7 linked regions of the Homo sapiens genome follow. The protein of the gene in region 6 purifies or fractionates together with the protein of the main gene of each other region. This does not show direct contact. Each region holds a gene or a part of one and is shown on either strand. Other genes may lie near its edges. The genes, in order: SIPA1L1, TRIM9, FBXL17, FBXW8, TRIM47, KLHL2 and XIAP.

Region 1 (4,318 bases), on a different chromosome or scaffold from region 6:
CTGCAGAATGCAGGGTGAGGCGAGCTCTGGCTGGGCTCGTGCTGGCTGAGTCTGTGGAGCCATTCAGATAAATGCCATTTGTTTTCACTAGCACTCCTCTTCACCATCTTTTGTAAAAGGGATAATAGTTTTGCACTGCTACCTAATTAAACATGGCTTTTGAGCTTTCTAGATACTTCTACTGTCAGACTGCTATTATTCCCTTTACATTCCAGAACTTTACATGTTCCTCTTTCAATGATAACCCTTCAAGTGACAAAACATGCTAACTGTTGCTTCCGAGGATATCAAAGGACAGCATATATGGCCATAGCAAAGGTTCAAGAAGTGATTCTCATAAAATGGAAGGAAAATTGAACAACTGAACCAAAATGCAAACACCTGTTCAACATCTCCCCAAAAGCTGATTATTTCAATGAATACTCTACATAGCATAAATAATACTTCTAAAGTAGATTTTATAAAAATTAGATGCTTTCAACATTTCTCACAACCTCACAGAAATCCAAATAAATCATCTTTCATTCCCCAAACATTCATTCTCTAAAAGGACAACACACCAATCCCACCATGATAAAAACTCTTGCCACATTTCATGTGCCTTAGAAAATACTTTACTGCACAGCTGTCTTTCCCAGGATATGTGAAGTTATTTCCATTAGAGGAGGAAACTAAAAGCTGGCAGTAAAATACAAGAAATAAAACTGACTTGGAAATGCTCAGTCTCCACCATCAGTATTTCTCTTCCAAACCATCTCATATACTTCCAATATTTTTAATGAGTTTATAAAATCTTATTTTTAAATATAAAAATTTCTTACCAATTCAAAAGAAATTTCAAGACTCCCATTACATTATATAACAACGACTCAATGTTTTCTTTTCATTTCAAAATATAAATAAGCACATGGGAGAGAGAGAAGCCACGTTTTAATGGCTTGTAAAAACTGATGAGGTTCGAGATGGGCAATTATGTTAAATAACAGATTTTTTTTCAGTCATAAGGACCTTCCTTTTCTATGTTTTTTTTTTCTCCCTCTCATTTTCCATCTCCCTCCCTCCCTCCCTCCCTTTTCTCATTCTTATTTATAGCATCAAACCCCTTTGGGGTACAATATAAACTTTGGGCACTGACTAGCATATATGGAAATATACATGCTTTGCACTTATTAAACTACCAGTCAAAAATAATGCTGTCCATCGATGTGTATCATATGATGACAGATCAATAATACCTTCACATCTATTCCTTAGGGTTGACTGAAACAGCAAACCTATGTTGACAATGATCAGCAACTCTCTTAAATATCAGCAAACCTGCCTAAGTACCAATATGGTAAAAAGCAATAGAATTAAACAGAAGAGCAATACGAATTCACAGCATGTCACCTCCATCTGTTGAAAGAGCAGGCTATATAAAAATTTTCCTTATTACATGTTTAATTTTACAGCTCTAGATACTATCTAAGTCTATGGTAGATCCAGGTAGCTAGAATACTAATTCCATCTAGAGGGCCCACAGTTTAGTTCAATGAGTTCAATTCAACTAGTTGAAAGTCTTTTCATCACTCAAGATCTCTCACAACCTAACCCACCATTCTTCCAGAAGAAATGCTTCCTCCTCTCATCCAAATCACCCCCTGTGTTTCTGTAGTGTCTTCAGAGCATGGACCATACATCCACCAGTCCCTCCTTCAAGGAAAGCTCCAGGTGTAGCAGGGAGACACAGACAAGTAAGAAGATGACGGGGGATGCATGGGTCATGCCTCCTTCCTATACACTTTCCATTTTGATTGTAAGCTCTTTAATAACAGAGCTTACAATCTCCTGCTGGGACTAATTGTACCACAGTAGGTCAGCCATTTAGAATATCAAGTCCCTGAGAATGCTGAAAGCAGAACCTCTTATGGGATCTCTTGATTGCCAAAAATCCCTTGTCATTCTGGCTCTGTGAAGCATCTGTACTCCTGAACCCATCCTCCATCCTGAACCTCTCTTTTCTGGACCTCTGTGATAACCATGTGCTTCTTCATTTTCTCTTGCCTCTTTTTGCCCACTACTCAGTCTTTAGTTGGGGTCCATTGAAAAGGTGGTGTCTATGGTTTATCTCTCTTGACATTTTTCATATTTCTGGAAAGGGGTATAAAAGGTATTTCTATCAGGATGCATGTGAGCACTGAGTGTATTAGGATGAGACAGAAGCATGGGTCCACTGGAGTAATAATATCACTGTGGAAAGCAGAGTGTTGATTGGGCTGGCTCACATTTGTCTGTGCAGCTGAACAAAGGCAGAATAATTAAGTTACTGGCTGGAAATCTGCATGGCAACCAGTACTCTGTCTGTTGATACTGTAGGTGCCTGCAGCTTTAAATATCATCTCTATGCTGTTACCTCCAAATCTCTGGTCATGATCTTCTCCACTAAACTTCAGATAAAATAGAGGTAGGTGCTCATTTGACATCTTCTTTATTTACCTATTTTACAATGAAATAACCAACAAGCAGAATAATGAAAAAAATTTTTTTTCAAGAAATGATTAAGTGGTAAGGAAGGGAGCACATTCTATTCCTAATTCAAGGAATAGAATGAAAGAAACAACATCGTGCCAAGGGCATAAAGAGCAGTTTAAAGGTTACAAGAAGAAGATGTGGGAAGGGGGTGGGGTTGGGGGAACACTACAGTTCCTGTTGTGAAAGAATTACAGTGCAATATGGTAGGGTCACCAGAAAGATGTAGCGTTCCTCATAAAATACTTCCACATTCCAAAATGAGATCTTCTCAGATTCTTTAACTGGTACAGCCTAAAATACAACGCCAGCTCTCAATGTTTCAGGGCAGTAGAAGGAACTGTGCTGATGAATAACTATTCAAATGCCCCAATAATTCAGAGATATACACTTCAGAAGTATTTATGAAAATTTCCAGGCCCAGCACAGTGCCTTGTGCCTGTAATCCCAGCACTTTAGAAGGCCAAGGCAGGCAGATGGCTTGAGCCCAAGAATTTGAGACCAGCCTAGGTAACATGGTAATACCCAGGCTCTTAAACAAACAACAAAAAAATAGAAATAGTTTTTGAACTTGTAAACACAGACTTAGAATGCCTGTAAATATTCTTACTTCAGAATGTAATAAAACACTATTTAAAAACAGAAATATAACTTCACAGTACTTGAATATTAGATGAGCTAAGATAATCAAATAAGGCAAACTATTTTCTTTACATCCCTTCTTGGCTTTCCTGAATTCCACTCACATTACATAAAAGTTGCATCTCAGACAGAAGGGATGGCTCACTCTTTCAAGTTAGCCTGAAACACATCTTAGTGCAATGTCATGGATAATTTAAGATTTATGAATCAGCGTAAAACTTTTTAGAATGGAATTTCTACCTCCTTTCATTTCTGTATTCTCCCTTCAACAAAAAGCAGGAAGAGTTGAGAAAAACAGTTGATAAATCTAGTTCCTGCTCTCCTAATGTTCACTCTCTGAAAGAGACAACACTGATGGAAACAAAGTCGAGTCAAAAAAACTTTTGGTAAAATTAACAAAGTGAATAGAAAAGTTATAGATACAAAACATGTAACATGATAAAGCTGTATTTGAATTTAGAGATAAGAAAGCAACTTAAAATGTGCCTGTTTGGACACAGGAAGGATCAAAAAGGAAAATCACATTTCCCTCCCACTCACCCTCGTAGCTAAAAAAGTTCAGTGAAGAAAGTTACGCTTCTAAGGTTTTGTTAAGCTTGAATATAGTTTGTATAGCTGAAGGTGAAGGAAAGAACACAAAAGTTTGGCAGAAAGCTTGAGGGCAGAAGAATGATAAAGAATGCGGGAACAAGTTACGTGGTGGAATAATAATATTATTATTATTACTATTTGAGACAGGGTCTTGCTCTGTCACCCAGGCTGGTGTTTGGTTGTATGATCATGGCTCACTGCAGCCTTGAACTCCCAGGCTCAAGTGATCCTCCCACCTTGGCCTCTTGAGTAGCTAGGACTACAAGCATGCCTCACCATGCTTGGTTAATTTTTAAAATTTTTTGTAGAAACAGGGTATTGCTATGTTGCCCAGGCTGATCTTTAACTCCTGGGTTCAAGGGATCCTACCAAAGTGCTGAGATTACAGGAGTAAGCCAGTGCACCCAACCCATGGTGGAATAATTGGTAAGTAGTAAATTGATGCAACAGCTGGCAAAATGAAGGAGAACAGAAGTACATGTCAATGTTTATCTCTTACATTTAAATATGACTAATCTCATGCAATAAGCACATAATAAAATATCAAAGACCTAAGTTGGGACAGCTTAAAGTAGGA
Region 2 (4,318 bases), on a different chromosome or scaffold from region 6:
GCTTACTCTTAAAATGAAAATGTTAAAAGCCTCAGAGGTTATATCTGGCCATCAAATTCAAGCCTCTCATCTGAGACACATTACTTGTCTTTGATGACCAAAATATTTAAAGTATAGCTAAGAAGCAAAAATTCTCTAGAGATGAACCTTGTATGGTGGCTCTCGGTAGCCTAGCCAAGACTGAAGGGACTGGCAAAGATGAAAATGGCGGGTAATGCGAAGTTGCTGGTCTCTTCCTGTTTGGTGCCCACAGGAAGTCTCAATCCTGGTGCTGACGGCCTCCGCTTTGGGTATGAAACGGAGGCAGTCTAAGTGGGTAAGCCAGGAGCAGCCAACAGGCCCTCTCTAAACAGCTCTAGCACCCCACCACCCATTTGAAACACATTCAGTCATACAAATCCACGACTGGAAAGAACCTAGGTCCCACCCTCAGAACAAGCAAGTACTACAGAGTAATTTAGAATCATCTGGGCAAAACTGGCACATGATGTGTATCGGTGGAGAATGGGAGCCTGCTCTAGAGCCTAGATACATTTGTCTTACACACCAGGGGCACATTCAGGCCTTCATTTTTCAGCTTCTTCAACTGCAGCTTATTTAGATTGTTATCAAAGGAAGCCGCCGGCCCAAGCCATTGGAACTGCCGATGTGGAATCTTTGGTTTGATCACATCCACATACCATAGGCTCTCTAAAGGCAGGAGAGGAACAGCGGCTCTGTGCAGAATGCAGAGCAAGTCATGGAAACACTTCAGGAATGTGGGCAGTGGTGGGGTTACCTCCGGGCTTGCCAGCCACTTTAGATGCCACGCAGTTCTCGCTCTGAGGGATACTGCTGAAGGGCCTTACCCTCAGACGTTTGGAGGACCAGGGTCTTGCTGTACGGGCTGACTCCTGTTTTGTTGAAGGCCTTGACCCGAGCGTTGTATGTGCTGTTGAAGTGAAGACCATCCACAGTGCACATTGTCTCCTTCCCCACATACACCTCCTGAGAGTCAGCAAAGAACAGGACAGCACTTAGCCTGCCCCCTTCTGAGGGGCGAGGGAGGCAGTGTCGCTCAGTGGTTAGGAGCAAGAGCCCTGGTGTCATTCTAATCTGGATTTGAATCCTGTGAGATATTGGGCCATTTAATTTACCTTTTTAGCCTCAGTTTCCTAATCTGTAAAATGGGATAATAATATCCACCTTATGAGGTTGGTGTGAGGATTACTTAATGTTGTATATGCAGATTAGCGTCATGCCTTGTATTTAGCATGGGCCAGGCAGCCTAATGAATGGTAGTTATTAGCAGCTAGGGCTTAAAAAAAATAAAACTGAGTGCTTATAGTTCAGATTACACTTATTAACTTGGGATTGGTACAGTATATAGCCCCTACTGAGCTCCTTATCCATCAGTATGGTTTGTAAAAAACATGTTTGAAACCATGAAAACAGGAAGGTGGTCTCTATCCTATGTTTAGAACTCCGCTGATAACTTCAGAACTGTCACAGAGATTACACTCCAAGCCACCGGGGATAGGTTTTCATCACAGTACAGAGGGAAGGGGGAGGAAACAGGGAAAGGAGGAAGAATGACATTTCAAAGGCTTAAAATAAATCCTAGCATAATGCGTCTTTAGCATAGGTTAGGCATTTGCCTCCCTCTTCAGCTGTACACATTGCAAAATTATGCTGATGTAATGAATAAAAATAATTTGCATTCAAAGCACAGCCTTAATATGACAACTCTCTGGTAGGATACTAAGAAGACCACGGTCTTGGATCACCCATCAATTCATTACTCCTGCTGGAATAACAAAAATTGGAATATTATGTCCTCTCATTCAGTGCTTCTCAAACTTTACGTGCATATGAATCACCTGAGGATCTTGTAAAAATGCAGTTGCTGATCCAGTAGGTGTCTGGGGTAGGGTCTCGATTTTGCATTTTTAACAAGTTCCCAGGTGAAACCAATGCTGCTGGGGGAGGACCGCACTTTTGAGTAGAGGAAAAAGTCAAGACAAAATAAGATAATTATTTAAAGAATTGGGAAAACCGGGAGAGTTACTTTCCCAGGAGAAAAAAAAGATAATAAAGGGAAAAGAAAGGCCCTGAAAATGACACAGGCACTGAAAAGGCAAAGTCAGGAATGAGAAACTGACAAATAGGATTTTACACACACACAACACACACACACACACTCTCACACACACTGCAAAAGACATGAAATGGAACCTGAGGCCCTTATCTTGGAAAGAAAGAAATTAGATTTTATCATGCCAATAAATCAACATATATGTAAATAAGGCTTCTCTATCAAAAGAGAGAACCTTTGTCCTTGAGGAGAATTGTAGAAGACAAGGCCCCTGCTCTCAAGTACTTAAACCTAGTGGGGGATCAAAAACACATTCAGGAAAAGGGGGCCTTGAGAGGCTTTGCTCTTGAAAGCTAGTGGCTCAGGTTTGGCTATTGGTGACCAGAAGAAAGCCTCATCCTCACGGGCCTGAGGTTTTTTTAGACAGGGGTCTCCTCTTCATCAGTGCAGGAACTGGCCTCAGTCCCCAGAACGGCTGCTCCCTTAGGAAGCTCCAAGCATCAGAACTTCCAGGCAAGACTAGGGTGGAGAGGATGGAAAGTAGGGTGGCAGGGAGAGGATGGATGAGAATGAAGCTCTGTATGAGAGAAGCAGACACATGCCGGCAGGTGGTGGCACATGAATCATCAATCTGGTGGTACCACAGCTGTGTCTTACCAGGAGGCCATTCTGTCCTGCCTTCAGAGGGCAGCATGAGCTTCTCAATGGGGATAGGGCTCCCTCACCTTGGGAAGGTAGCAATCTTCTGGTACCAGTTCTATCTGGTGAAAGGCCCAGAACAAAACTATAGAACTGGGGAAACCTTTGCTAGAAAGGTTGCTTAGAATAGGGAAGCTATAACAGGAGACCATGTCAATTAAGAGGAATGCCAATCAAAGACATTAGAAGCTGTGGATTGCAGAAATAAATCTTGGACAACGGTTAATTATATTATTAGCAATAAGCAATGATGGTAATAATAATAACTAATAATGAACGCTTGCTATGTTCTAGGCAGCATGCTAAGAATTTTGTATGAATTATCTAATGGACTCTTAGCAACAAAGCATGAGATTCACGCTATTGTTATCATCCCTCTAGTTAATAAATGAGGACCTGAAGACTCAAAGGGGTGATAATTAGGCATTGTCCACATAGCTAGGGTGGAGGAGACCAACTTGAATGCAGGCAGTCTGACTCCAGTACTGCATGTCCTGTCTCATAAGAAGGGTAGGGCAGTTTCAGAGACTGCTCCATCCACCTTCACGGTAGAGGGAGAAAGCAGGCTTCAGGTGAAGGGCAGGCAGGCCCTGCCAGGATGGCCTGTCCCCAGGAGAGATGGGGAAGCCAGCCCTGAGACTCCCTGGCAGGTCCTCTGACAGAGTCACTGCTTTGGGTTAACAAGTACGTAGTGGGCTGTCTACTGACCCGGAATTGACCACCGTTGCCATCATCCAGCTCCAGAATGTATCCATCGGCGGGCACCGTGGACAGAGGTGGCTGTTTCCAGGACAACGTAGCGCTGTTGTTGTGGGTACAACATTCCTCCAGCTGTAGGATAGGGGTTGCTGGGACTGGAGAGGAAGCTAAACAGAAATTAGTGTAACTCTGGCTTCTGTTAAGCTGCAGATATTCCAGTATCTTAGAATGACAAGCATCCCCCTGATAAACACGTGGTTAGAAGTAGCCAGAATGGGGTGCACAGGGGAACTGAACAGGATCCTTCACAGAGTCCCCAGGAGTCAGACTGGCTCCTGATTTGCTGTGAGGCCATTTTCTAAGCGCACAGTGGCCCTTCCCACCTTCATTGTGGCTGTTGGAGGGGAGACAGGCAGATTCACAGAACTGTGTTCTCATCCCCTTGAACATTGAAGACATTATCCCTAAAGGAAATGTTTTACATGGAGGCTGGGGTTCCAGTCCAACCCACTAAAGCATATTTAACTTATAACGTGCCTGAAGCTGTGCTAATAATTTTTTTTTTTTTTTTTTTGAGATGGAGTGTCGCTCTGTCGCCCAGGTTGGAGTGCAGCGGCACAATCTCGGCTCACTGCAAGCTCCGCCTCCCGGGTTCACACCATTCTCCTGCCTCAGCCTCCGGAGTAGCTGGGACTACAGGCGCCCGCCACCACGCCCGGCTAATTTTTTGTATTTTTAGTAGAGACGGGGTTTCACTGTGTTAGCCAGGATGGTCTTGATCTCCTGACCTCGTGATCCGCCCGCCTCTGCCTCCCAAAGTGCTGGGATTACAGGCGTGAGCCACCG
Region 3 (4,318 bases), on a different chromosome or scaffold from region 6:
TCAGATATGGTCTAAAGGGCTTGTTATGAATAACTAAAGAAATTCTATTGCTTAGGAAATTCCAAGAGTTTTGGGAAATATGTGGCAAGAATTCAGGACAAAGACCAATTACAATATTATTATTATACCAAATTCTTGTTATGCTTCAATGTTAAGACGGTTTCTCTTTTGATTATATCGTTCATGCTATAATCTAATTAGTATATTGTTTATTGTGGAACATTTAATTAAAAAATGGAAAATACGTTTTTATTTTTAGCAAAAGTTTAAATTTATTGCTTTTTCTCTTACAGGTCACTGATGAATTGTTGGAAAAAATTGCATCAAGAAGTCAGAATATAATTGAAATCAACATTTCTGATTGTCGCAGTATGTCTGATAATGGCGTATGTGTTTTAGCATTTAAATGTCCTGGACTTCTTAGGTATACAGCCTACAGGTGTAAACAGCTTTCTGACACCTCTATTATTGCGGTTGCCTCTCACTGTCCTTTACTTCAGAAAGTGCATGTAGGCAACCAGGACAAACTCACTGATGAAGGACTCAAGCAGGTAAATTTTAGCATTTATAAAGTGATTTTACTTGAATTAATTAAAAATGTTTTCTAGCAACAACATTTTAAATGGTTACGTTAAAAATAGTTCCCAGAGACTCAAGTGAATCATCTTTTTTACCTATTAATGAATATTTGTTTAGATTAGTTAACTAGAGTGCCATGGTTATAATCAGTAAATTAACTGCTTTGTTTTATAGTGAGAGCCTGAACTTCTGTGACCAGCCATTTTATAAATTTATGCTTTTGTTACTTAAATTTTTTACCACATTTTGCTTTGGGCAACTGCGTAGTTTTGGTCAGCATGAGGTTTTAAAAATTAACATTTTAATTCCCCTTTTATTATACTAGATGACATACATGCTTAAATATCTGAATGTTTAAGGGATAAATGGACGTCCAAATTGAAGATTATAAAAGTTAGAACAAAGGCCTAATTACCTCTATTTGGTACAATAACTGGGTTAAAAATAGTATTATGCATACCTTCTGTTTATTATACTTCCTTTGGAAATGGCATTTAAGGTTTCTTGGCTCGGAGTGGATTATTTATTCAACAGATGAATATCCTTAAATTTAAACCTTATGTATGAATTAACTGAAAGCTTGGTATGAAAAGAAATTTGGGAAGACTCTATCCTAAATAGTGAGTACTGGGTGTGTCAGTACAACTTATATATTAAGAATGTTACCAACTTATAAGGGAGCCTATTTTGTTTGCAAAGGCATATTGTGCAAAAAGTCTTATTTGTTTTAATATTTTTCTTGATTCATTTCTGCTATGTACAGGATTATTTACTAGCAAAGCATTTCATGAAGTTCTTAAACATATTAAATTAATCTTTTATGAAGAAATATATATTTTGTGTATATAGCATGATTTTATTTACTTTGATGGAAATTTCTCAGCAATTTATTTTTCACAATGAAACATTTTAAAAAGGTGTATGTATTAAGAACTGGATTAAATCTATTTCATATTTAATTCTGATATAACACAAATAGGTAGTAGTTTAGCAGACTTCTTAGGGTATACCTAGTAATTTTTGTGAAAAAGAATAAGATCGTAGTCATGGTTGAAGTAGAGAAGGAGCAACATTTAATATGCTAATCAAGTATTATGAATTTATCTTATATTTACAACTTTGAGAGTAATTATGTAAATCTTCTCTAGAATGTGAGGTATTTTGGAGCCTGTTACTTAGATGTTTCCTTCGGATATTTATGGTTTCTGAATTATGAATTAGTTACACGTGAGGTAATATTCTGATAAAAGTAGCAAAACAAATTTTTTTCCCCTTAGGTAGTTTTCTTCTTAAGTAATTACATAGGATCTCATTGCAGTGTAGAGAATATTTTTCTGTACTTAAGACCGCTATAGCTGGGTATGTCTGATTTCATAATAGACTCTTTCCTCTGATGGAATAGTGTTATGGGTATAGTAGAAAGAGAATGGCTTTCATATATACATAAAATAGAAATTAAGTTTTATGAAACAATACACATCCTTATGTGCAATGCACATGGATATTATCTATTCTGTTCTATACTATTATGTTAAATGTTGGCCTTGACCCACTCACTAAATTAATTTTATGACCTAGTGATATTTCATAAATCCGAATATGGATTTATATTATGGTTTTAGTAAACTGACAGTGCTATGTTAAAATGTATAATAGAGTTACGAAAGCCTAAGAGGGAACTAGCCATAATTGATGATTTGCCTGGGACTGTTATTTTTTCTTGAACTCATTAATTTAGCAATTGACTGAATTGTTGATTCTACAGATTAAGTTGTTGCAGGGTTCTGTTTTTTCCCTCTTCTGTCAGTAAAAATTGAGAAATGTTTTAGAATGATATATGTAAATTTTATTGATAATTTCTTTAGAATATATTTTCTTTATAACTGCTATAATTTTGATTGACTTTAGCGGATACCAAATATGTGTGCCTTTTGAATTCTGTCAGTTTGTTTACAAAAACAGTTGCTTATAGCATTTCAATTTGGAGCTCTAATAGATGTAGACTCTAATGTTTTAACTATTGGATTCTGCTTAACAATATTTCTTAAGCATGGTGAAGCACCTAAAAAAATCAGGCTGGTTTTGGTTGAATACTATCCTCTTTGTGAAATACCACCCTGAAATATTTATATTTTTATTTTCATAATAGTCACTCAAAATAATTTTACCAGTGGAATGTGTTCCTATTGTATATATCTTTTAAAACTACAATCATGTATCTAGAGGAAAAATCTATTTAAGAATAAAGGGCTGTTTCAATTTTCCTAATATTTTGTTATCATCTAGCACTTGCCAGTAAACAAACGATAATAGTAGTCAAAGTATTAAAATATATCTAAGAAATTGTATGCATTGTTACTATATTATGTGACTCAATTATATGCAGTTTTAGCAGTTTAACACTCCAGCTCATGGAGCTCAGTAGAAATTTCTGTAAATAAGTCACTGTAGGCTTTTTTCAGATAAAATGGTACAAAAATAATAAATGTTACATTAGTAAATTTTGATCTGGCTATGCTATCAATTTTTAGGTCTTTAAAAATAACTACTTAGAGTACTATCAGCAAAATGTTGGAGCAGGCAGCTCCAAAAGCCTGCCTCTCCAAAAAAACATTGAAAAACAAGCCTAAACTATCAGATCCAACTTTGTCAGAACTCTGGAAACGTCAAAGGTTTATAGCAACCAAAGGAATGCTAGACAAGAAAAATGCAACTGAAAGGTGGAAAGAATGCTTTGTGGGTTTTTTACTTGCCTGTGCCTCACCCATTCCCCAGCTTGGCAACAGTCTTGAAGATAGCAGTCCGAGTTCCCAGTGTGGGACCCAGATCCCTGGTTCCAGAGGGAACAGAGCAGACCTTATTTGCAAATTATTCATTTGTCTGATCAACCTACCTGAGAGCTATTTGAAGGGCTGATGCAGGTGCTTATATATCTGTTTTACCTAATTTAGAACCCAGTCAGGGAGGAAAATTAGTGGGCATTGATTGAACACAGTATAAGGCAAATGAAAGAAACTTGCTTTTGAGCAAGCTTCTTTGGGCAATAGATTATGGTGAGACATACAATTGACCTAGGAGAAAGAGCCTGGGAGAGAGTTTGTTTTTATTTTTGTTTTTGTTTTGAAATTAGGACAATCAGCCTCAGTGTATAGAAGGGAATTTTGAAAGCCGCATGCATGCCCAGGGCAGGACACTTGTTCAGGAACGACCTAAGAAGACTGTAAACTTTATCACTGTGTGCTTGCTAGGTCCAGTACAAGCAGGAAGTAAAGGCCAAGGCAGAGTTGTGAATGGTATGGCTAAGTCTTAAAGAAATATCCCAGCACAGAGCCAGTCTGCAAAGACTTGAATAAGTGCTTTTGTTTTTTGTTTTAGTTTTGTTTTTAAGCTTTGGCATCCAAGGAAATCTCTTTCAAAACACTGGCTGAACACAAGCTAAGCCTTGATTAATCAAAAATAGTGAAGCGTAGGGAAGTGGGGAGAATCTAATTTCCCAAGTTACCACATTATAATCTAATATTTTAATATTTAGTTTTCAACAATAAATTACAAGGCATGCAAAGAAAAAAGTATTACCCATTAAAACAAAAAAGAATAAATAGAACCCATTCTTGAGGAAGCCTGGACATTGGATTTACTAAAGATTTTACTAAAGATTTTAAATCCATTATCTGAAATATGCTCAAAGACATAAAGGAAACCATGGCCAAAGAAATGAAGGAAATTAGGAAAATAATGT
Region 4 (4,318 bases), on a different chromosome or scaffold from region 6:
CCAAAAGGTTAAAAATATCCAAGTGATCTGCTGTCTCCTGGTTTCAACGTCATCAGGGTCCATTTGGCCACCAGAGGGTAAGGAAGGCTCTACAAACACGCATGTTTCTACCCACCCCGCTCCCCAGTCCTGACTGCGTCACCGCCGGCACTTTCTCTAATGTGCACGAGTCTGAGACGCACTTTTCAAGAATAATTTGATTCTGTCCATCCACAGGCGGCCCATTTCTCCGCGGTGCCGTTCGCAACAGGCTTTCGCCTCTGCGAGTAAATCACGAGAGGACACATAGAAGGTGAGCCACACTAATTATGAAAATCCACAGTGTGAAAGGACAGCGCTGCCCTGACCATATGCCAAAGAGTTCAAAGCCGGCCTCCAGAACACGGTCCAGAAGAGCTGGAGGGAGCGTCAACATCCGGGGGACTCTGCTAATACTCGGGCCCAGCTCCGCAAGCTGCGGGTCCATCACAAAGGACAGCCGCACTAGGCTAATATCGCAGACCTGGGAACACTGCCACTGCCATTCAGGGGCGTATATGGACAAGACAAAACTGGCTTGGCTCTTCGGGCCAGGGGTGCCTTTTCCAAGGATACTCAGAGCATTTTGTGGGAACCTTTCACTCAAAGTGAAAAATAATTCCTAAAACGTGCATAAAACCCGCCTTGAACAATGGCTGCTCGGTTCCTCTCACTCCCCCAAATCATGTCTCATTTTCCTACAACTGATATCCTCCGTCTAGCCCTTTAACTTTATCTCCGTGTTGGCTTTCTGACAGACCAAGAGGCTCAGATTGACAGTGGTGGTGCCATTTGCTGGGGGCTGTAAACTAGTTCAAAAAGCTTCCAGTCTGTGCCAGGATGCCACCTTATTGCCAAGGCAGGATTTGCACTTTACAGAGAAACTGGCATCTTAAGTAAGTATCTGGGTCCATACAGTGATTGCTGGTCTACAGTATTCGTTTTTTTGTTGTTTTTTTGTCTTTTTTTTTTTTTGAGACGGAGTCTCGCTCTGTTGCCCAGGCTGGACTGCAGTGGCGATCTCGGCTCACTGCAAGCTCCGCCTCCTGGGTTCACGCCATTCTCCTGCCTCAGCCTCCTGAGTAGCTGGGACTACAGGCGCCCACCACCACGCCCGGCTAATTTTTTGTATTTTTAGTAGAGACGTGGTTTCACCGTGTTAGCCAGGATGGTCTCGATCTCCTGACCTTGTGACACAGTATTCTTTAATCACAGACTAAATAGTAAGTACTATGGAAGTTTTGAGAACAGAAATGTACTTTCACATTTTTCTAATAAAACCCAGATGAGCTGACAGCATCAGGCCATTTTAGGGGAGCACTATACTCAAAGTGCAGACGCTCCTGGAGGTGAAGCAGTGATGCCATGGCTTTCTAAGTTATTCTAGTCTAAGAAGATTCCCAACAGACAGAAAGAGGGAGGAACAGGATTGGTTCCAGGTCAGGCCCTCAATTCATCACTCAGTGTTGGCTTTTCTGCTCACTCTCCTACCAGTGCCAAAATCAAGTTTGTTTAAATTAAATCCTAACTCAGCATAGACAGATTTGAGCACTTCCTTCTTAACACCAAATCATCTCCCACTCTACAAATCTAGAGGTTCCTGTACCAATGAACTCAGAAATAAGCTCGACATAAAGAATTCTTAAGGCTGGCTGAGCTGCACACATGACATCCTGGAACATGGCTACCCAATTAACACCAACTTAAATCTATCTTCACGCAAGAGTTACTTTAAATTTCAGGTGAGACAGTCTTGGGATGAAGAAAGTGTAGGAATGGAAACCTTCCTTCCCAGATGGACTGGGATAACACCACTGAACTCATTCTCACTTATATATTAGGTCAAACTGATCTTTGATTCCCAAGGGTGAGATTCCACCGTGTTAGTCTGAAGAAGGCCAAGGAACCACAGTGATGAGCAGCTCTGGCCCTGAAGTCAGCCCTGAGGTTTGAATCGTAACTTCTTACCTCTGAGAACTGGGGCAAGTCAGTTCACTGCTCTAAGCAGCCTGAAGTGGCTTCTTGGTAAATGGGGAAAATGCTACTACCTATTTTGTAAGGCTGTAGTTAGACTTATGGAGGTAAGGCCCGCAGGAAGCTCTGAGTGAATGGGAGTTACCAACACCATTAGTACGTGCTTACATTAGACCCAGAGATTCTAAGAATAGAAAATAAGATGACCAGACTAAAAAGCTCACCAGTTTCGGAACTTCAAATTCCGCAGCTATCTGCCAGTACCCCTCCTCATTGGGGGATAACATCACGACATCAAAAGCAGAAGCTGTGGCCACGGTTGCATCGTCCTGGCTGAGGGCTAGTGCCTGTATTCTTGCATCGTGCTCAAAACGATGAACAGGGTACTTTCCGGTCCTTAAATCCCAAATATTAAGAAACCCTATGCAGCAAGAAACAATGCAGGTAACAATTTTAAATTTACTTAATATGTTCAATTATTTTAAAAACATGCAACACAAAGGAAAATTTTTTAACGGAGATACCTTGGAAATGAGACCCAAGTCTAAACACGAAATCACTTACGTTTCATATATACCTGATGCACATGGCCTGAAGGTAATTTTATACAATATTTTATTTTACTTTTTTATTTTTTAGAAACAGTGCCTCACTCTTCGCCCAGGCTGGAGTGCAGTGGTGCTATCATAGCTCACTGCATTTTTGAACTGATGGGCCTAAGTGATCTTCCTGCTTCAGCCTCCCAAATAGACAGGACTACAGGCGTGTGCCACCATACCCAGCTAATTTTTAATTTAGCTGAGACACAGTCTCACTATGTTGCCCAGGCTGCTTTTTTGAACTACTGGGGTCAAGCAATCTTCCTGCCTCTGCCTCCCAAAGTGTTGGAATTACACGTGTGAGCCAACGTACCTGGTCTATACAATATTTTAAATAATTCTGTGCATGAAGCAAAGTTTTGGCTGTGTTTTGGCTACAAACCCATCACATGAAGTTAGATGTGAAATTTCCTACATGTAGCATCATGTCAGTGCTTAAACAGTTTCAAAGCATTTTGGAATTTTGGATTAGGGATGCTCAGCCTGAATTTCACATCCTTCCTCAGCGCCATCCTCCTAAAGCCTCTGTTAGCAGCAGTGCTTTATTTTGCACAGCTCTAAAACCTGTGCTTCAATATCCCACACTTGCCAAAAATGCCGATTTTCCACTCTTCTCCCAGCACCTGGAATGCTGCTACCCAGATTAATTCCTCTTTCACACACTGGCCACACACCCTTTCTCCAGGGTGGTTTCCAGACCGGTAGCATCAGTACCACGTGGCGACTTATTAGAAATGCAGACTGTCAGGCACCAGTAACTCTGGGGATGTCCACTGGAGTTTAGGACCAGTGGTCTACAGGAGCTTATGCTTTTCCAGTCAGATAACCTTTTCTGTACTTAGCATTTCATTGATTCTTCTTTCCTCAAAAATAATTTCTTTTTATCATTCCCAAGCTATTTCCTTCCCTTCGAAGATTTACCCAAGAAAATGATTACTCTCTGCATTAGGCTGGTTAATGCCTTGCTCCAATTCCAATTGATTCAATTTTTCAAAATTCACCAAGAAATAAATGTGTGGAGATAACAGTTTGTGACTATTTGAGTTCAAATCCAGCTCCAGCACTTGTTAGCTGACGGACTTAGGGGAGCTGCTTAACAGCTCTGAGCCTGTTAGCCTTTCTGTAAAGTTGAAGACAACATTACCTACTACATAGGACTGTGAGGCAGATGAAAGGAGACCGGCCACACGAAGCACTGAAGATGGACCATTCCTTTCTGTCTTTTATTTTTATGCAGTCTATAGTTCCTGCTGTGTTATAAAACATATTTAATCTATCAATGCTAATTCCCCTTCTATTGATCATCCGTAAATCTAGCCCTATTTCCTATAACTTCCTATTATCTAGAACAGACCAAGCTTTTTGCTTTCCTTCTCTTGGCAGTGTATCTTCCTATCTTTCTTTTTTCTTGCCTTCTACTTTGTCTTTAAACTATAAATGCTTTGAGTTTAGGATCTTACTATAAAGGATCATTCAGCACTAAATAAATATAGAGAATTGGAAGAAAATAATACATTTGGGCTGCTTTGCCAGACTTCCAAACTGTCAGTAGGCTAAGGAAGCAATTATAAACAAAAGCAGAGCCTTCTTCAAGCTAAATGTTGCTTCGCATCTAAAACACAGTGCACTCTTAAGAATTATGATAAACTTGGGGGATAAGCGGATCACAAAAGGTTCCACAGCACATTCCCCTGGCAATTATTTTGGCAAATTCTTTCCATCCTGAC
Region 5 (4,746 bases), on a different chromosome or scaffold from region 6:
CACACATGCCCGTTGCCTGTGTTCTGCCTCTTGCCCCATGTGCTTCCCGGGCCACAGCCCTCTGGAGCTAGAGGGTGGGCTAGGAGAAGCCCCCTCTACCCCAGGTCCAAGGGGCTGATTGATCCCCACAGGGTGGCAGCTCTAGTCACTGGCAGGATTTGGGCTCCTCCCTGTGCCAGGCACAATTTTCCTCCTCCACTTCTGGATGGGCGCCAGGCCTGGGGGCCTGTGCGAGAGGCTGGCAGAGGGTGAGTCATCGGGGGGGCGTGGGGCGGTGCCCACCTTCCGAGTCCAGCTTCTGTGGCCCATCCTCGTTGCCACCCGGCCCCCTCAGCTGCTCCCACTGGTTGACGCAGGCCACGGCCAGCATGTCTCTCACTGCACGGACAGCTTGGGATGATTTGGTGAAGCTGAGCTCCCTCGGGGGTCCAGGCCCAGGGCCACACCCATCCTCCAGGGCCAGCCTTAGTGCCAGCAGCTCCTGTGCCAGACAAATGCCCATTAAAGTGCTGCTGGCCATGGCTCCTCCTTGCTGGGGGTGGAGGCAGCTCTGCCAGGAAGTCATGCACCCACTGCCTCCTCCTCCCTCCACCCCACCTGTCCCAGCTTCTGTTCCTTCCGTGGCCCCCAGAGCGGCCTTCACCTGCAGGAAGCTGACTGAGTCAGCTTCAGGGACCTGGCTGAGATTCTGGCGGGCTCGGCTCAGGCGGCTGCGCTGTTCCTCCTGTCGCCGCAGGTCACCCTGGGAGCGGCCTAGCATGGCAGCTTCCCCCTCCTCGATGAAGCCCAGCACCTGGGTCTGGAAGCCCTGCAGGGCGGCCGCAGCATCTGCAAACAGCCGGCTCACCCTCTCCCGCTCTGCTACGGCTGCACTCTGCACAGGACGACAGTAGAGGGGGCAATGAGGGCAAAGAACCGTCCCGGACTGTACCCCCCTCCTTCCCTGACCCCGGCTTCCCACCGGCCCTCTTGAGGGGACAGAGGGGCCAGACTGAGCCTGTCCTGGATCTGGGCCAGGTCAGGGGACACTTGTGCTCAGTAGGTATGGGCATGGTTTGTTTGGAGTGGATTGTTCCATGCTGAGGGAGGGGTGTTTGACCTTGATGAGGGCCACTGTGCGCCTGGACTGTGCAATGCCAGCACCCAGCTCGTCCATGCGGTCCTCCACGGCGCTCAGGACTTTGGACTGCTCAGCCTGTGGACAACACCCTCCATGAGTGTGAGGTCTGGCAGAGGCCACAGCCCTACACTCGGGTCCCAGGCCTTGCCAGGGGAGAGAAGGGGGTGACTGGGGAGTGGTATCTGTGCATCAGGTGGGACTGGAGTGGCCACGATGTCCCATAATATGCCAGAGGTGCCTGCAGCCCAGGCTGGTGCCTTTCCTGAACGCCTGGGGGGCGTGCAGGCTGACTGGGTGTCTGCCTCGGGTCTCTGACAGGAGGCCTAGTACAGGGCCGTCCGCTGGTCTCAGTGTTGCTCAGATGAATTTGAGAACTTCCTCCGGCGGGGAAGAGGCAGAGAGTAAGCCAGTTAGGTTGGGAGGTGGGCGGCGGAGGGGTGACTGCACAAGGAGGCATTAAGCTGTCCTGAGGATCACTGTTCCCAAAGAGCCTGCATCCACAGTCCAGGCCTGGAAAAAAGGGGATTCCGGGCAAATCCCCTAGGTCTTATGAGTCACTGCTCCAGGCAGGAGAAACGGAAAATCCCTTGGCCAGAGGCGCCAAGACCGGGCTGGAGGCCAAAGGAAACTGGGGGCGGGAGGTAGAGGCCGCGGCTCACATGCTCCCACCACTGGCCCCCGGAACAGCTGGACAGAGAATCTGTGTGCCCGGTCGCCCTCTGCCGCCCTCCTGCCGCCTGCCACACCCATCGAAAGCTGCTGCCTCAGCCCAGGGCAAATCTGAGCTGAGACCGGCGTGACCCTCCGGGCGGGAGCAGCAGCCACGCTACCGGAACCCCGCGGGCCTAACCCGGCTCCCTCCCGCCTACACCCCCATAGACCCCGGCCCGGCTTCAGGTCCCCTGCCCGCTCTTCGCGTCCTTGTCCTGTTCTCACGTCCCTCCTTCCTCCCTTCCCATCTCCATCACCGCCAGCAGATGACCTTGTCAAGGCTGGAAGGGACCGCAAAGATCCTCAGGTTAGAGGAGGAGATTAAGACCCAACCCGGGAAGACTGGGGGGTCCAAGGTCCTCGGCCCGCTCGCGCGCGGTCGGTCACCAGCCCCGGCTCACCCGAGTGTGCCCCCGGAGCCCACCTCCTGAAGCGCGCGCTCCTGCTCCAGCGGCACCAGCTCGTGGCCGCGGTGCTCCTGTGCGGCGCAGGCCTCGCACAGACACACGCGCTCCGCGCGGCAGTAGCGCTCGAGCGGCCGTAGGTGGCGCGGGCACAGGCTCTCCTCTAGCCGGCGCAGCGGCGGCACCAGGCGGTGTCCGCGGAGGGCGGGGCTGCGCTCGTGCGGGCCCAGGTGCGCGGGGCAAAAGGAGGCGAGGCAGGAGAGGCAGGACAGCGCGGCGGGCAGGGCCGCGCCCTCGGGGCACGCGTCGCAGCGCACTGGCTCTTCGCCCGCGGGCCACGGCTCGGGAGCGCAGGGGGCCGACGGCTCCGGGACACTGGGCAGCGCGCTGGGTGCCGAGGGCTCCGGGGCCAGGGCAGGGGCCGGGCCGGGGCCGGACCCGGGGCCCGAGCCCTGGCGGAGCTGCAGCAGCTCGGACAGCGTGTGGTTCTTGCGGAGCTGAAGGCCGTCGGGGAAGGGCTCCTGGCACAGCGGGCAGCGGGCCGCGCCTCCGGGTCCGCCGGCTCCACTCGCGCCACGATGCGGCCAGAGCGCGCCCAGGCAGGCGAGACAGAAGTTGTGGCCGCAGGGCAGCGTCACCGGCTCCCGGAGTGGCTCTAGGCAGATGGGGCAGCTGAAGGGTCCACTGCCGTCCATGACTCCGCGGCCGCCCAGGGCGCCGCCGATTGTGCTCCGGCCTGGGAGGGACCCGGGCCGTTCGCGCCGCGGCACCTCCCCCTGGGACCTAGGCCAGGGCTCCGGCCCCCGCCCGCCCCCAGCTCGGCCCGCCCCGCAGCACCGCCCGCCTGCGGGCCCGCGGACTCCCAGTCCCCGCCCAGACAACGCAGGGAGGCCTCCGAGCCCGCGCGACCCCCAGGGGAGTCCGCGTGGTCCTAAGGAAGGGCGCTGCTGAAAGGGTGTGAAACTGAGTGAGCGCGGGCGGAGAACGCGAGAGGTACAGTGGAAGGAATGGGAAGGACTCAGCCTCCATCCCTCTGGTCCTTCTGGGCCAGGCCAGCGCTCCGCAGGGGCTGGGCGCGTCTAGCTGTGTCATGCCTGCACCTTTGCGCTCGACCCCTCCCTGGCACCCTTAGCAAAGTTCCTGAGCTGCTGACTGCAGAGAAAAATAACTGCTGATGTACATATGTTTTTGCCCCTTAGCGACTCTTTTTTTTTTTTTTTTTGAGACAGAGTTCCTCTCTTGTCGCCCAGGCTGGAGTGCAGGGGCGCTATCTCGGCTCACTGCAACCTCCGCCTCCCGGATTCAAGTGATTCTCCTGCCTTAGCCTCCCAAGTAGCTGGAATTATAGGCGCTTGCCACCACACCAGGCAAATTTTTGTATTTTTTTGTAGAGACGGAGTTTCACCTTGTCCAGGCTGGTCTTGAACTCGTGACCTCAGGTGATCCACCTGCCTCGGCCTCCCAAAGTGCTGGGATTACAGGCGTGAGCCACAGCGCCCAGCTCCTTTAGCGACTCTTTACCCCAAGTAGGGAACTTGGACTTTTCTAGACCTGAAATGGGAAGTTGACGTCATTCCCTAAGTCCCTTGTCTGAGGAATGTAGTTCTGGCCCCTGGACACTGGGGACACCTGTGGTGGGGTTGGGGGTTCCCCAACTGGAAGTATTTAAAGCTCATCTAATTATGCACTTAAAGTGGTGCGTTTTATTGTATGAGTTATATCTCAATAATGTTAAGTTAAAACACTACACCAGAATGACAACAAAATAAGTAAAGTAGCACTGATTATAACCCAAAGTGTAAAATAAACATCTATGAGTCCATGCCGATATAAATAAATAATAAATTAACAAGCTGGGGAGAACAGACATATTTCGCATTGAAAATTCCAAATAATGTTTTTTTATTTTTATTTTTTTAGATGGAGTTTCGCTCTTGTCGCCCAGGCTGGAGTGCAGTGGCGCAATCTCAGCTCACTGCAACCTCTGTCTCCTGGGTTCAAGCGATTCTCCCTCCTCGGACTCTTGAGTAGCTGGGATTACAGGCGCCCGCCACCACATTTGGCTAATTTTTGTATTTTTAGTAGAGACGGGGTTTCACCATGTTGGCCAAGCTGGTCTCGAACTGCTGACTTCAGGTGATCCACCCGCCTCGGCCTCCCAAAGTGCTGGGATTACAGACATGAGCCACCGCACCCAGAGATATCTGTAATTTTGGTTAGTGACAAAGTCACAGGTAACTGCTCATACCACTCTGGTGTATTCTCTCCATTTGGAATAGAAAGAAATGCTGTGTTTCAGTAAGGTGCTGCAGCGTGGCTTCCTTCTGCAGGATCTGAGGGAGACTCTGTCCTGGGCGTCTGTCCCAGCTTCTGGTACTGGCTGGCAATTCTTGGCGTTCCTTGGCTTGTAGCTGTAAGATGCGCTCTAATATCAGTCTCTGTTGTCATTTGCCTTTTCTCTGTGTCTGTGTTCAAATGTCCTTTTTTTTTTTTTTTTTAGGGAGTCTTGCT
Region 6 (4,318 bases):
CCTTCTCCAGATATAAAATTACACATTTATGTCACCTGAATTGTTCCCCCAAGCAACTGTTAAAATCAGTTGACAGTCTTATACAGCAGCAGTCCCCAAACCGCAGGCCATGGACCGGTACCTGTCTGGAACCTGTTAGGAACCGGGCTGCACAACAGGAGGTGAGCGGCAGGTGAGCAAGTATTACAGCTGAGCTCTACTTCCTGTCAGATCAGCAGCGGCATTAGATTCTCACAGAAGTGTGAACCCTATCTTGAAATGCACATTTGAGGGACCTAGGTTGTGCACTCCTTATGACACTCTAATGCCTGATGATCTGAGGTGGGAACAGTTTCATCCCAAAACCATCCCCCCAACCCACCCCTGTCCATGGAAAAATTGTCTTCCACAAAACCAGTCCCTAGTGCCAAAAAGGTTGGGGACTGCTGTTATATAAGTCAAACACACACGTGTTATATAAGTCAAACACACACAGTTATATAAGTCAAACACACACACACACACACACACACACACACACACACAGAGAGAAAGGAGGAGGGATAAAGGGAGGGGGATAGAGAGGGAGAGAAAAGGCTTTATATAGGTTGATTTATATAGAGAAGCTAATTTTAAAAAGAGGATAACTGAAATTTTACAGTAATTACGACTTTTCTTTTTAAAATGATAATTAGCTTGCCCATTCAGAAAACTAAAGTTGAGATTACTGGAAGAACCACTCTCAAGGATCAAAATGCCACATGTACCTGAAAGAACTGTCAACACCTACCTCCAACAACACCCACACCAACACTGCTCCTCCTTGTATTCATGGGAGCTACATGAAACCACTCATTAGACTTTATGTTGTATGCTTCCACAGATGACAAACCTATAATAAAGCACAATAGTCTTCATTTCCTTCTCTAAAAAATGTCAATAGTTCATATATATGGAAAAATACTTCAGGTATGTTATACTGGGCTAAAATTAAGAGAAGAAAATGGTGGAACATAAACACAGCAATTACATGAAAAACAGGTACAGCTTGTTTTCCAGAAGGCTCCTACCTAAGCTACTGATATTTATAAGCTTTTAAAATTTGATGACTGATACTGATGCATAAGAAAGAAAATTTATATACTCACCACTCATATCATTTAAGGAAATTCTTGATAAAATTTTAAACTTATCTTTAAATACCAGTTAAAACCTCACATGTTGTAATCCCAGCACTTTGGGAGGCCGAGGTGGGCGGATCACAAAGTCAGGAGATTGAGACCATCCTGGCTAACATGGTGAAACCCCGTCTCTACTAAAAAATACAAAAAAAATTAGCCGGGCGTGGTGGCGGGCACCTATAGTCCCAGCTGCTCGGGAGGCTGAGGCAGGAGAATGGCATGAACCCGGCAGGCGGAGCTTGCAGTGAGCCGAGATTGCGCCACTGTACTCCAGCCTGGGCGACGGAGCAAGACTCCATCTCAAAAAAAAAAAAAAAAACACAAAAAACCTCACATGTGCCCTAATGTTGCCACAATTTATTCCATAAACATGACTACTACGTTAATTTTAGCAGCAATGTAGAATAAATGAAAAGGAAATTACCTGTACTCCCATCAAAGCCTCCCACAGCGTATAATAATCCATTTAACACAGCAGCTCCCAAAGTGCTTCTCCGGTCTCTCATGTTAGCAACGCTGGTCCACTGGTCCTTCACAGGGTCGTAGGAATCTACAGTGCGAACTCTTAATGAGCCATTAAAGCCACCAACAGCAAAAACAAGTCCAGCCATGTAGACCATGCCTGCAAAAGGAGTACAGCATTTAATGATCAACATGCAACTCAACTACCACCAATATCCAAAGATTGCTTTCTGATAAATCTATAGCTGTTGTCAGAACATGCTACTCTTAGGAGGAGCCTGATTAAATAAATCCTTGAAAATGCTATTCATTTGCAAGAACATCCAATCACTAAATTGTCTTTCTTTCTAAGGTTATTATTATTATTATTTCTTCCTTTCTTTATTTTGAGACGGAGTCTCACTCTGTCGCCCAGGCTGGAGTGCAGTGGCGCCATCTCAGCTCACTGCAAGCTCAGCCTCCCGTGTTCACACCATTCTCCTGCCTCAGCCTCCTGAGTAGCTGGGACTACAGGCGCCCGCCACCACACCCAACTAATTTTTTGTATTTTTAGTAGAGATGGGGTTTCACTGTGGTCTTGATCTCCTGACCTCGTGATCTGCCCGCCTTGGCCTCCCAAACTGCTGGGATTACAAGCGTGAGCCACTGCACCTGGCCTTCTTTCTAAGGTTATTAAAAAATGCAATGGCATGGGCTAAAGTACCATGTTGACTCTTGGTTTTTTTAAATATCAATTTACAAGCTTAAATAATGAGCCATTATTTTCCAACTACTTGAACCTGTACTCACCTCCCATAGCTTTCAATTTTGGATCTTCTAGTGGATATTCTTAGAATGAAACTCCATACGCTTATAATTTATTTGCATAACGTATTCCTAGTTTATCATGTTAGTGGGCTAAATCAGGGGTCGGCAAATTTACAGCTACAGGCTAAATTTGGTCCAGCGAACTATTTCTGTAGAACCCATAAGCTAAGCATGGTTTTTATATTTTTAAATGGCTGAAAAACAACCAAAAGAGGAATAATATTTCATGACATGTAAAAAGCTATATGAAATTCAAATTTCACCATCCATAAATATAGTTTTATTGGAACACTGCCACACTCATTCATTTACATATGGCTGGTTTTGCACTATAGCAGTAGATAAGAAGCTGTGACAGAGACCATATAACCACAAAGCCTAAAATACTTATTCTCTGGTCCTTCAAGAGAAAGTCTGCTGATCCTTGGGCTAAAGAGATATTACGGAATCAGTGAATGGAGAAACTAGACTGCTAGACTCAGGTTTCAACCATCTTTTCACTTTTCTCAACTTTTTTCATGCTGCTGTCCTAATCGGACAGGCTCCTATCACCATCTACTCTGTTCTCTTTAACTCTGAATCCTCAGTTAAAGTTCCACATTCTCTATGATGCCTTCCCTGTCCACTTTAGCCTAAAAGGGATTATGTCCAGCTCCCGAACCCTATAGCAAATAACATCTATGTTGTGTACTTCAGGTTTAATAAATGTACCGTCTATAATATAATTACTTTAAATTGTTCAAATTTTTATTGTTCTTAGTTCTATAATGTTTATGTCCCTGTGCCAGCCTGAGGGCAGGCAATGTGGCTCACAGTTCTCTGAATCCCTGTAGGGAGAACTGGAATCACCAGATATGTTTGACGAGCTCAATGTTTTGCAGATGTTATCAGGCAAGAGATGTACCTCTGCCCCTTACTGTCTTAACCTCTGGTGCTTTATTCCCCCACCCCTGTAAAAATACACGGAAATGCAGTCCTCCATATGGCAACAAGACCTTTCCAGTTCAGATGAAGTTGCCTGTTTTGGCCCCCTGCTAGCACAGAATTTAACAGACATCCTAAGAGGGCCTGGAGACTCGTGAGCAGCAACATACCAGGCAGCATGTTTCAGCATGAAACAATCCTGTATCCCAAAATCATAACTAACTCCAGGGAATGTTCATTGTGGGAATCTTGCCCATTGCAATTTTCATTTTCCTTTCTCTACCCACAAAATAACACTACAAATATGCCATCTCTTAGAAGTAACATAGTATGCTTACCAAGGTTTAGAGAATTTTAGGTCACAGAGAGGAAGAAAATAAATGAATCAATCTATGAAGTGCCCCCTACCAAAGGCTCTGGGTCTGGAGAAGGGACTGAACTAAAAGAAGTATGATAACCTCCCAAAGTTATCAGGAAACTGAAGTGCCCAGAAGTTTAATTACACAGTTTATTAAAATTTGGCCAAGTTTACACAGTTAAGGACATTGGCTCTAATCTGAAGGAGGGAGAGGAAAGAGGGCATGATGAAGATAAAATTTATTCATAGTTACCCAATAAGTAAAGAATACATTTTGCAATAAAATGAGTCAAATGACTTATGGCCTCAATGAAAAGGGAACTGTATTAGGAATCAGATATGAATTAAGAAACCAGTTAGTAAATGGCATACAAGACTCCATTTCAGATAGTAACGATAAAGATAAAACACCTAAAAATAAACTTGCCAAGAAACACAGAGGACCATTGGAAGAAAATGTTAAAAATCTACTGAAGGATATAAAAGAAGACAGGAGTCCTATCACTAGTTTCATAACATAGTAAAACATATTATAAAGCTCAGTAACTAAAATTGGCTTTGTCTTGATGCATGAATAGGCAAGACAAATCAATGGAAGAGAACAGAA
Region 7 (4,318 bases), on a different chromosome or scaffold from region 6:
TGTTTCCCAGGCTGGAGTGCAATGGCACCATCTCAGCTCACTGCAACCTCCGCCTCCCAGGTTCAAGTGATTCTTCTGCCTCAGCCTCCCAAGTAGCTGGGATTACAGGTGCCCACCACCACACCTGGCTAATTAGGTCCCTTTTTTTTAATAAACCACAAGAAAAATTTGACACCTGACGCTGTGGCTCATGTCTGTAATCCCAGCACTTTGGGACGCCAAGGCGGGCAGATCACCTGAGGTCAGGAGTTGGAGTCCAGACTGGCCAACATGGTGAAACCCCACCTCTACTAAAAAAACTAGCCGGGTGTGGTGGCGTGCACCTGTAGTACCAGCTACATGGGAGGCTGAAGCAGGAGAACTGCTTGAACCCAGGAGGCAGAGGCTGCAGTGAGCCGAGATTGCACCACTGTACTCCAGCCTGGGTGACAACAGTGCACCTTTGTCCCGAAAAAAAAAAAAATTGACACAAGGAAAATATCTGCAGCCTGGGCAACATGGCGCAGCCCTCTCTCTAATAAAAATACAAAAATTAGCCGGGCGTGCTGGCTTGTGCCTGTAGTCCTAGCTACTTTGGGGAGCTGAGGCAGGAGGATCACCTGAGCCTTGGGAGGTGGAGGCTGCAGTGAGCCATGATTGGGCCACTGTACTCCAGCCTGGGCGAAAGAGTGAGACCCTGTCTCAAACAAAACAAAGAAACAAAAATCTGAATTGTAGACTCTTTGTAGATAAGAACATATTTTTTAAAAAAGTTAAGACTAGGGCCAAGTGCGGTGGCTTTCACCTGTAATCCCAGCACTTTGGGAGGCTGAGGTGGGCGGATCACCTGAGGTCAGGAGTTCAAGACCAGCCTGGCTAACATGGTGAAACCCCATCTCTACTAAAAATACAAAAATTAGCTGGGTGTGGCGGTACACCCCTGTAGTCCCAGCTACTTGGGAGGCTGAGGCAGGAGAACCACTTGAGCCCATGAGGCGGAGGTTGCCGTGAGCTGAGAACGCAACATTCAACTCCAGCCTGGGCCACAGAGTGAGACTCCACCTCAAAAACAAATAAAAAGTTAAGACTAAAACAGTTTATAGTGATTAGGAGTTCAGCTGTCTAGTTTTGTTTTTGTTTTGAGATGGAGTTTCACTCTTGTTGCCCAGGCTGGAGTGCAATGGTGCGATCTCGGCTCACCTCAACCTCTGCCTCCCAGGTTCAAGCAGTTTCCTGCCTCAGCCTCCCGAGTAGCTGGGATTACAGGCATGCGCCACCACGCCCGGCTAATTTTGTATTTTCAGTGGAGACGGGGTTTCTCCATGTTGGTCAGGCTGGTCTCAAACTCCCGACCTCAGGTGAAAAAGTGCTGGGACCTCAGGTGAAAAAGTGAGTCACTGCACCTGGCCCAGCTGTCTCGTTTTTAGAAATAGATTAAGACTCAAAAAAAATATTGCCCACCGTAATATATCTGATTATTAGCAAAGCTTGGACTAGAGTCTAGGTTCTAGTCTAGTGGCCCTTGTACTATACCTGTAATTTTATTGCTTTCTAGTGCATTGGATGATTCCAACTAGGCTGACAAAGTAATAATATCTAAAGGTTAGCCAGGACCATTTCAATAGTTAAGAATTATTATTTTTTTCTTTGGTTTTTATTTTATTTTGTCTTCCTTTTTTTTTTCATTTTCAGGAAGTGAGCAGTTTCTCAAAATTATTATAATTAATGGACCAGCTAATTTGTATAGTGCTTAAAATATTTTAGTAACATAAATTTTACTAAATAAATTTACTAATTTAGTAAATAAATGTTCTCCTTTTATTTCATTGTAAACATTAATTTCTTTAGTAAATCCTGTATTTATATTGTAAATGTTTAGCGATAAAATAATGATATTTCACTGTTTTTGTTTGGTCTAATATTTAAGTCTGGTAGGTAGTATTAGCAGAGAGCAAAACCTACAGTTTATGAAATAAACATTCATTGAGCACTTAATGTGTTCCAGGCATTCATTGTAGTATGTGGTAGGATTCCAAGGATAAATATGGCAAAACAAATGCCTTTCTTCTGTTTTTTTTTTTTTTTTTTTTTTTTTTGAGACGACGGAGTCTGGCTCTGTTGCCCAGGCTGGAGTGCAGTAGCGCGATCTTGGCTCACTGCAGGCACTGCCTCCCGGCTTCACGCCATTCTCCTGCCTCAGCCTCTCAAGTAGCTGGGACTACAGGCACCCGCCACCACACCCGGCTTAGAGTGTGTGTGTGTGTGTGTGTGTGTGTGTGTGTGTGTGTGTGTGTGTTTTAGTAAAGACAGGGTGTCACCGTGTGTGTGTGTGTTTTAGTAAAGACAGGGTTTCACCATGTTAGCCAGGATGGTCGCATTCTCGTGTGTGTGTGTGTGTGTGTGTGTGTGTGTGTGTGTGTGTGTGTGTGTGTTTTAGTAAAGACAGGGTTTCACCGTGTGTGTGTGTGTGTGTGTTTTAGTAAAGACAGGGTTTCACCATGTTAGCCAGGATGGTCGCATTCTCCTGACCTCGTGATCTGCCTGCGTTGGCCTCCTAAAGTGCTGGGATTACAGGCGCGAGCCATCACACCAGGCCGCCTTTCTTCTTTTTTTTTTTTTTTTGCTTTTTTATGTTCGTCTGTTTTTATTTTGCTTTTGTGTGTTTGTTTGTTTTTCCATTGTTCTTTTGAGGCTGGGAGATTATCATGAGCTGTCAATTCTCAAGCTTTATCTCTGTGAGATAATCTGGTAATAGTTTTATAAAATGTAACCTGTTAGCACTATTAAAGGACATTGTGTGAGTAGATATGAAGAGACAAACAGTAGTGATAAGATAAAAAATACTTTAGAATTTAACAAATACTGTTTCTGTATCTTAGAGGTCATGTGCTACAGTGTTTGGAAAGAGCCCTACGTTGGGTACCACAGTACAGGTTATTGACTTTGTTTCCAATTAGCTGTGGGATTGTGCATGTCAATGACCCCATCTTTCTTTACATGTTCACATTTTTGATATGTTATTTTAGGTGTTGAATTCAAAACATAAAAAGGGTATTTTAAGGCCGGGCGTGGTGGCTCACGCCTGTAATCCCAGCACTTTGGGAGACTGAGGCGGGCGGATCACGAGGTCAGGAGATCTAGACCATCCTGGCACCCCTCTCTGCTAAAAAAAAAAAAAAATACAAAAAATTAGCTGGGCGTGGTGGCAGGCGCCTGTAGTCCCAGCTACTTGGGAGGCTGAGGCAGGAGAATGGTGTGAACCCGGGAGGCGGACCTTGCAGTGAGCCGAGATTGCGCCACTGCACTCCAGCCTGAGCTACAGAGCGAGACTCCGACTCAAAAAAAATAAAAGGGTATTTTGAATATTTTATTTTATTTATTTGTTTTTGAGACATTGTCTTGCTGTGTCACCCAGGCTGGAGTTCAGTGCATGATCCCAGCTCACTGCAACCTCCACCTCCTGGGTTCAAGTAATTCTGGTGACTCAGCCTCCCAAGTAGCTGGGATTACAGGCGTGTGCTACCACACCTGGCTAATTTTTTTTTTTTTGGTATCTCTTTTTTTCCCCTCGGAGACAGAGTCTTGCTCTGTCGCCCAGAGCTGGAGTGCAATGGCTGCGATCTCTGTTCACTGCAGACTCCGCCTCCTGGGTTCAGGCAATTCTCCTGCCTCAGCCTCCCGAGTAGCTGGGATTACAGGCGCACGCCACCACAACTGGCTAATTTTTGTATTTTTAGTAGAGACGGGGTTTCACCATGTTAACCAGGTTGGCCTCGAACTCCTGACCTCGTGATCCACCCACCTCAGCCTCCCAAAGTGCTGGGATTACAGGTGTGAGCCACCACACCCAGCCTTTTTTGTATTTTAAGTAGAGACAGGATTTCACCATGTTGCCCAGGCTGGTCTTGAACTCCTGACCTCATGTGATCTGCCCGCCTTGGCCTCCCAAAGTGCCAGGATTACAGGCATGAGCCACTGTGCCGGCCTTTGAGTATTTTAAGTTATAAAAGAAATATGTGTTTCTATATATATTATATAATATATATTATACATGATATATAATATATATGATATAAATTATATTATATACAATATATTATATATGATTAATATATAATATATGATATATCATATATAATATCAAAATATATAATATGTATATAATAATGTATGATATATATAATATAGTATATAATATATTACATGTATAATATATTATATATAATATATAATACAATATATGTAAAATATATATAATATATAACACAATATAATATGTAAAATATATTACATATATAATATATATATTTTTCAGACAGAGTCTAGCTCTGTCACCCAG

Evidence for each region.
Region 1: the proteins of KLHL2 (region 6) and SIPA1L1 purify together in Homo sapiens (affinity purification with mass spectrometry; 2 studies listed by BioGRID and IntAct, with this or other methods). This does not show direct contact.
Region 2: the proteins of KLHL2 (region 6) and TRIM9 purify together in Homo sapiens (affinity purification with mass spectrometry; 2 studies listed by BioGRID and IntAct, with this or other methods). This does not show direct contact.
Region 3: the proteins of KLHL2 (region 6) and FBXL17 purify together in Homo sapiens (affinity purification with mass spectrometry; 3 studies listed by BioGRID and IntAct, with this or other methods). This does not show direct contact.
Region 4: the proteins of KLHL2 (region 6) and FBXW8 purify together in Homo sapiens (affinity purification with mass spectrometry; 2 studies listed by BioGRID and IntAct, with this or other methods). This does not show direct contact.
Region 5: the proteins of KLHL2 (region 6) and TRIM47 purify together in Homo sapiens (affinity purification with mass spectrometry; 2 studies listed by BioGRID and IntAct, with this or other methods). This does not show direct contact.
Region 7: the proteins of KLHL2 (region 6) and XIAP purify together in Homo sapiens (affinity purification with mass spectrometry; 2 studies listed by BioGRID and IntAct, with this or other methods). This does not show direct contact.

What each region holds. Positions count from the first base shown.
Region 1 is NC_000014.9:71,581,898-71,586,215, reverse strand, and holds part of SIPA1L1 (signal-induced proliferation-associated 1-like protein 1), read right to left. Parts: intron 1-4,318.
Region 2 is NC_000014.9:50,997,202-51,001,519, forward strand, and holds part of TRIM9 (E3 ubiquitin-protein ligase TRIM9), read right to left. Parts: intron 3,640-4,318; coding exon 3,482-3,639; intron 988-3,481; coding exon 849-987; coding exon of another isoform or gene 799-848; exon of another isoform or gene 1-798. UniProt on the Homo sapiens protein: E3 ubiquitin-protein ligase which ubiquitinates itself in cooperation with an E2 enzyme UBE2D2/UBC4 and serves as a targeting signal for proteasomal degradation.
Region 3 is NC_000005.10:108,360,971-108,365,288, reverse strand, and holds part of FBXL17 (F-box/LRR-repeat protein 17), read left to right. Parts: intron 1-293; coding exon 294-551; intron 552-4,318. UniProt on the Homo sapiens protein: Substrate-recognition component of the SCF(FBXL17) E3 ubiquitin ligase complex, a key component of a quality control pathway required to ensure functional dimerization of BTB domain-containing proteins (dimerization quality control, DQC).
Region 4 is NC_000012.12:116,983,301-116,987,618, reverse strand, and holds part of FBXW8 (F-box/WD repeat-containing protein 8), read right to left. Parts: intron 2,437-4,318; exon of another isoform or gene 2,414-2,436; coding exon 2,217-2,413; intron 1,966-2,216; exon of another isoform or gene 282-1,965; intron 1-281. UniProt on the Homo sapiens protein: Substrate-recognition component of the Cul7-RING(FBXW8) ubiquitin ligase complex, which mediates the ubiquitination and subsequent proteasomal degradation of target proteins.
Region 5 is NC_000017.11:75,875,619-75,880,364, forward strand, and holds the start of TRIM47 (E3 ubiquitin-protein ligase TRIM47), read right to left. Parts: upstream 2,964-4,746; 5' UTR 2,931-2,963; coding exon 2,256-2,930; exon of another isoform or gene 2,233-2,255; intron 2,207-2,232; exon of another isoform or gene 2,103-2,206; intron 1,196-2,102; coding exon 1,100-1,195; intron 875-1,099; coding exon 644-874; intron 482-643; coding exon 283-481; intron 1-282. UniProt on the Homo sapiens protein: E3 ubiquitin-protein ligase that mediates the ubiquitination and proteasomal degradation of CYLD.
Region 6 is NC_000004.12:165,308,017-165,312,334, reverse strand, and holds part of KLHL2 (kelch-like protein 2), read right to left. Parts: intron 1,783-4,318; coding exon 1,585-1,782; intron 872-1,584; coding exon 770-871; intron 1-769. UniProt on the Homo sapiens protein: Substrate-specific adapter of a BCR (BTB-CUL3-RBX1) E3 ubiquitin ligase complex that mediates the ubiquitination of target proteins, such as NPTXR, WNK1, WNK3 and WNK4, leading most often to their proteasomal degradation.
Region 7 is NC_000023.11:123,862,407-123,866,724, forward strand, and holds part of XIAP (E3 ubiquitin-protein ligase XIAP), read left to right. Parts: intron 1-4,318.